Regions from separate parts of the Homo sapiens genome. Here region 2 is linked to region 1. A link means that fine-mapping ties the variant in region 1 to the expression of a gene that starts in the linked region. Tissue or cell type: hippocampus. Region 1 holds a variant in brackets; the other region holds the start of a gene. All regions are shown on one strand. Distances are from middle to middle.

Region 1 (2,913 bases):
GCGGTTGGGGTGGGACCAGAGTCAAGGACTTACCTGGTGGAACAGGTAGGGCTGCAGCAAGGCAGGTTCGTAACTCAGTGAAGGGTGGGGAGGCTGTGGGGGCAGCAGCAGGTGCTCCAAGAGAGGCGGGAGCAGCTCAGCCTGCAGAGGGGACAGAGAGGAGCTGGCCCCAGCTCCACCTTTGCCCACTGGTGGTTGTGGAAGCCGATGCTGGGCAGCAGGGGCGGAGCCAGTGGGGATGTCCTGTAAAAGCAGCTCTCCAGCAGGACCAGGTCTCTTGGGTGCCAAGCCAGACCTGTAGAGGAAAGCAAAGTGTGTGTGTTGGAGCGGGGGAAAGGGCATAGAGAGCCTGCAAGGCAGAACTATTCGGGGCCAGGCAGGCTCAGCGGTTAAGAGCAGGCCTGACCTCTTTAGAAACTGAGTGACCTCAGGGGAAGAGAGATGGGCTGGGTGGGAATGGGGAGGGACCAGAGGGCCAAGCTGAGGGCAGAGGTATCTGCCTCCCTGGTGAGCATGGCTGAGTCTCTGAAACAACTGCAAAGGCTGGGTAATCATGAGGCTGGGGATGGAGAAGGGGCAAACAGGAGCAGGGGAAGGCAACCAGGAATTTCTCTAGATGAACTGTGGCTGCAGCTGTCCCCGTTGCCCCTGTGTGCCATGTCCCCACACCTGGCTCTCCAAGTATATGTCCAAATATTCAGGACTGCTCCTCCACCCCCCACCACTATGCCATCTTCATCCTGGTATCATCATCTGAGCTCCCTAAACCTCATTTACTTTCCTCTGCTTTGCAGTCTGAATGATGCCTTTAGAGGCCCTAACCACAAAAAGATGATGGTGGCTCCTGTCATATAGAAATTCACATAGTAATGAAATGGAATATTGAACAACTTCAGTCCAACAGCATTCTAATTTCTCCCATGATGACTACATTGATGCTTCTTTTAAAGTAGCCAATGTCAATGTTTTTCAAAACATTCAAAAAATGCCCGTTTTTCTGGATCCCTAGAGATGAGCTCAGCTCCTCTTGGTCATGTGAGCATGTCAGAGAGTGACCATTCCTGCACCTCTTTACCTGTGCCCCAGCATGCTGGCCTTGGTGCCCACTTCCTTCCCCTTCTCTCCATCAATTAGGACAACCACAGATTCATCAGCCTCACCATTGCTAGAGTTGTAGAGAAAGGCTGCCTACCTGTCCCTTGGACGGGGCTCTGGGGGGCGAAGCCTGGGGATGCGCTCCATCTCCTGAGAGATCACATACTGGGTGAGGTCATCGTGCCAGGACAATCCTGTCAGGAAAGAGGACAGCGTAAGTTGGTTCAGGAGTCTGGGGATCCAGTAACGGGGACCA[C/T]TGGGGATCAGAACTGTACCCTCTGCCCTGCAGCTCATGGGGTTTGTCAGAGTAGAGGGACAAACTCAGTGGGTGATCTGAGCTGTCTTCTTCCCACCCTCAGGTACAGCTATTGGAGCCAGACCACCTGGGTTTGAATCCTGCCTTTGCTACTGATGAATTATGTAACCTTGGGCAAGTTGCTGAACCTCTCCAAGCCTCAATTCCCTCATCAATAAAATGGGGATTTATACCTCCTAGGATTGTTATTATCATTAAAATAACACATATACATATCAAACGGTTAGAATAGTGCCTGTCATGTAGTGAACTTTTAACAAATGCTATTACCATAATTATTATTACTATTGTTATTATTCTTTGTGTTGACCCTGAACCTCAACTTTCTCTGTTTGTAAAGTGGAAACGATACATATTTCAGGGGGCTGTTGTGAAGATCAAGTGTGATCAGGGAAATCAAAGTGCTTAGAAAACTCTAAAGCATAATCCACATGTTTTAAACATGTATCATCATCTTCATTGTCGTCATCATCATCATCATCACCATTATCATCATCATCTTATTCATAGACAGCTCTCCTGTTTGACTCTTTCCCCCAAAAAAACTCTGCTCTCAGGAAAGTTCAGTCACTTATTCTAAAGGAATAATTTCCCACTTTTCACCCTCATTTTTTCTTCTCTAGTTCTGGATTTAAAATCTGTGCTGCTCTTAACTTGTATTCTGGTATCTACCAACATCCACACCTGCCTCCTTGCTTATTCACATTAGATGAGCTGTCTGTGTTCCTATTTAAAGCCAGTTCCTCTGAGCACTAGATTTCATCCCCTCTCACCTATTCAGGAACATTCTCCTTGCAATTCTCTCTTCTTTCCTACATAATTTCCTTTGTTCTCTACTGAATTATTCACATTATTCCCATGCAAACAATATGCAATTTCTTCCATCTTAAGAAAAATACTGCTTGATCCCACTTTCTTCTCTAGGGATCACTCCATATCTTTGCAGCAAGACTTCTAGAAAAAGTTGTCTATACTGACTGTATCCAATTCCTTTCTTTCTATTCCCTCTTAATCCACTTTATTCAGGATTTTATTCCCAACTATTCTACCAAAGCTGCTCTCATCAAGAGCAGCTTTGTCTGCATGTCCAAATCTAGTGGTCAATTTTCATATCTTATTTTACTTATCCCGTAATCATCATTTGACACTGTTGGTCACTCCTCCTCCTTGATACACTTTCTCCTGGCTTCTGGGACACTGAACACTGTTGTTTTTAATCCTACTCCACTGGCTTCCCCTTCTCAGTCTCCCTGAGAGGAAGTTGATGGTTCCTCTCTTTATCCTGGTCCTCATTTTTTTTTTTTTTTGAGATGGAGTCTCGCTCTATCACCCAGGCTGGAGTGCAGTGGTGCGATCTCGGCTCACCACAACCTCTGCCTCTCAGGTTCAAGTGATTCTCCTGCCTCAGCCTCCTGAGTAGCTGGGATTACAGGTGCTCGCCACCATGCCTGGCTAATTTTTGTATTTTTTGTAGAGACAAGGTTTCACCATGTTGGTCAGGC
Region 2 (2,913 bases), 29 kb after region 1:
TGAAGCCTGGAAGTGTTAGGGAGGAGGCCTGGAATCATTAGAAAAGGTATTGGTTTGTTTAGGGTTTGAGGCTCTGGATCCTTTTCCTGAAGCCCACAGTTTGCCCAACTGTGCATGAGAGGAAGGACAGGGGTTGGGGAAGAGAACCCCTAATGCTATGCACACCTTCCTTCTTCCAGATCAGTGAGATAGGGCTGGAGGACAGTCTGTTTTTTGCTATAGTGTAGTTACCATGAGCCATTCTGGACAGGTCTTTAGAAAAGGGAATTCTCCTACCCAGTCAAATGGATGTCTAATAATTTCCTGGGGGTAAGCGTGACAAAGTTTTAAGTAGAGACATTTGGGGATGAGAAAGCCTCCTTAAGGAAGTAGTGGAACCTCCAACACCCTGAGGAGAAGGGAAAGAGCTTCGGGAAGGGGAGCTGATTCTCTGAGGCAGCGTTCCCAGGACTGGTGGGAAGGAGTGGTGACCCGCTCGGGCTCGGCGTGGACCCGGAGCGCGCCTGGCGCTGTCCGTGGTGCTGAGAGGTGGGGAGGCCAGCGTGGCGGCGGCGCTGGGCGGAATGTGGGCGAGACATCTCCGCAAGGCTTGGCGGTCCTTCCCCACGGCCCTCATCCTCTCATTGCCACCAGGCCTCCTCCCACAGCTGTTCCTGAATCCGCTGCATTGGCCTCTAAAACCAAAAATCAGGGAGAGGGGGCGACAGACTAGGAGTTTGCGCTCTCTTCCCCATGCGCTCTGCGCAGGAGTTCTCGAGTGTGCGCAGTCTGGCACGTGAGTCAGCGCGGGGTCTACGCGGATTGGTGCGGGGGAAGGGGAGAAGGATGGTCCCATTCCCCCTCCATCCTGCTTTCCCTCAGCGGTCCCCTTATTGGAAACCGGATCACAGCACGAGGAAGCCCTGGCTCGTCTCCTGGCCCAGCCTTCTCCCTGGAGCCAAGACCCCGATACCCGCAGCCCTGGTCAACTCTTTTTCTGGCCTTTCTTGCTTCTCCTGTGGCCACATAGGCCAGTTTTACCTCTCTCTGTTCATTTGTCTTTCTGACCTCTTCCCAAATCCCCAATTTTCACCTGAACCCACTTCTCGTGAGTCCAGACCCCATATGCCCAGCCTATCTGAAGCCTATGCCTCTTTCCGCTAGACGCTGTCTACCTTTTTCTCTTCTCACGTCCTTAAGCACATTCTTTTACTTCCAAGTTTCCTAGCCTTGAGGCCCCCTGCAGACCCCCACTTCTCAGGATCGCTTTCTTGGCCCTGCCCGCACCCCCCAGGGTTCCTCCTGACCGTGGGCACTAGTGTCGCTGCAGCCCCCCGGGCAGCTGTTCAGCAGCAGGAAGCAGACAAGCAGCTGGAGCCCCTCGGAGCTCCCAGGCCACAGTGGGTGCTGTATCCTCCCAGGCTCGGCGCGCTCACTCCCCGGCCAAGTCTCAGTGAAGGTAGCGGCCACGGCCGAGGGGCTGAGCGGGGCTGCAGCTTCCCACCAGCCCGCGACTCCGAATCTGTTTAACCCTCCTCGGCAGTTCAGCCAATCGTGAGCGGGCCCTGCCCCTGCGGTCGCCTCCCCAGCTCCTTCCCCTACCGCCTCCCCACCCTCATCTCTTGGAATTCCTGACCCGGCTCCTTTCGGGCATTAGCTGGGTCCCAAGAACCACCGCCTGTACTCCCAGTCCTAAGGCTGCAGAAACGGATGGCACGTAAGATACGGGTGCAAGTTGTACCTACTCAGGTTTGTTGTGAGAATCAAATATGAACAGCGATGAAACAGTAGGCACTCAAGGAATTTAGTTTATTTTATTATCCTTGACACTCTTTACTCTGGCCCACTTAAAACCCTTTAGAAATCATATAGGTTCGATCTGCTATATATATATATATAATATTATATATTATATATTATATATGGCACATCCATCCACTTTACTCCACATCCACTGCCATCGCCTTGGTCCAAACCACTGCACACTGTACTTTTTTTTTTTTTTTTTTTTGAGACAGTCTTGCAATTTCAGATCACCACAACCTCCGCTCGACCTCTACTCAACCTCAGGCTCCAGAGTAGCTGGGACTACAGGTGCACACTACCATGCCCAGCCAATTTTATTTATTTATTTATTTATTTTTGTAGAGACAGGGTTTTGCCATGTTTCCCAGGCTGATCTCAAACTCCTAGGCTCAAGCAATCCTCCCACCTTGGCCCCCCAAAGTGTTGGCATTACTGGCATGAGCCACCATGCCAGGCCTTGGACACTGTACTCTTTTAAATTGAGTTGTTGTAGTAACTAACTAGCTAACTGACCTCTTGCTTTCACTCTTGTGTACTTACAAGCTAGTTTGTGAGCTTTCTAACTCTTAGACTGGCATTTAAATTTTTTTTCATTAAGCTTAAAACATTTATTAAACTGGGCATGGTGGCTCATGCTTGTAATCTCAGCACTTTGGGAGGTCGAGATAGTGGATTACTTAAACCTAAGGGTTTGTATAGTGAACATTTGGGGTTGATACATTACAAAGGATCTGAATTATATTATTATCTTTAAAGGGTAATAGTTTGAGTTTGTTCTGGCAGGCAATTAAATTTTTGGTAAAAAGTCTTGATCCTGTGGCAGTCTGGTTAGGGAAGGAGTACTTCATCCTATTCTCAATTCTAGCCTGTATCTCTTAGTCCTGGGATATGGTGCTTATGGCTAAGGTGTGGTCCTTTTTGGATTTCAACATAACCCAAAGTCATTTACCAAAACTCTCTATTTTACGGGTCCTGAACTCCAAACTCAGTCACCCTAACACTGTGACAGCTGCCAAAATCTCTGTTCAGATATTTGACTTTTTCACTAGGTTCCTTGAAATCTCACCCTGCGCAAGTGCCATTTAGAAGATAGCTAAGAATTGGAGGGGAGTTAGGATGCAGATTTTG

Which allele goes with the higher level. Alleles are on the strand shown, and positions count from the first base shown. SD is a standard deviation of normalised expression in the study named.
In carriers of allele C in region 1, the expression in hippocampus of the gene that starts at base 1,507 in region 2 tends to be higher than with T alone (moderate effect, 0.67 SD a copy in GTEx).

Evidence for each region. PIP is the estimated chance that this variant, and not a neighbour inherited with it, causes the effect. A credible set is the group of variants that fine-mapping cannot tell apart.
Region 2: RESP18 starts here. The variant in region 1 is the best candidate, but not a certain one, in a credible set for the expression of RESP18 in hippocampus (GTEx, PIP 0.77).

The regions. Positions count from the first base shown.
Region 1 is chr2:219,302,543-219,305,455 of GRCh38, forward strand. PTPRN (protein tyrosine phosphatase receptor type N) reads right to left here. Exons shown (of 23, transcript NM_002846.4): 4 at 1,193-1,289; 5 at 34-295. Among named protein-coding and RNA genes, the nearest start is that of PTPRN, 5.4 kb to the right of the region's middle. The variant C/T (reference allele first, on the strand shown) is at 1,352.
Region 2 is chr2:219,331,238-219,334,150 of GRCh38, forward strand. RESP18 (regulated endocrine specific protein 18) reads right to left here and starts at 1,507. Exons shown (of 6, transcript NM_001441699.1): 1 at 1,287-1,507. The coding sequence starts at 1,392.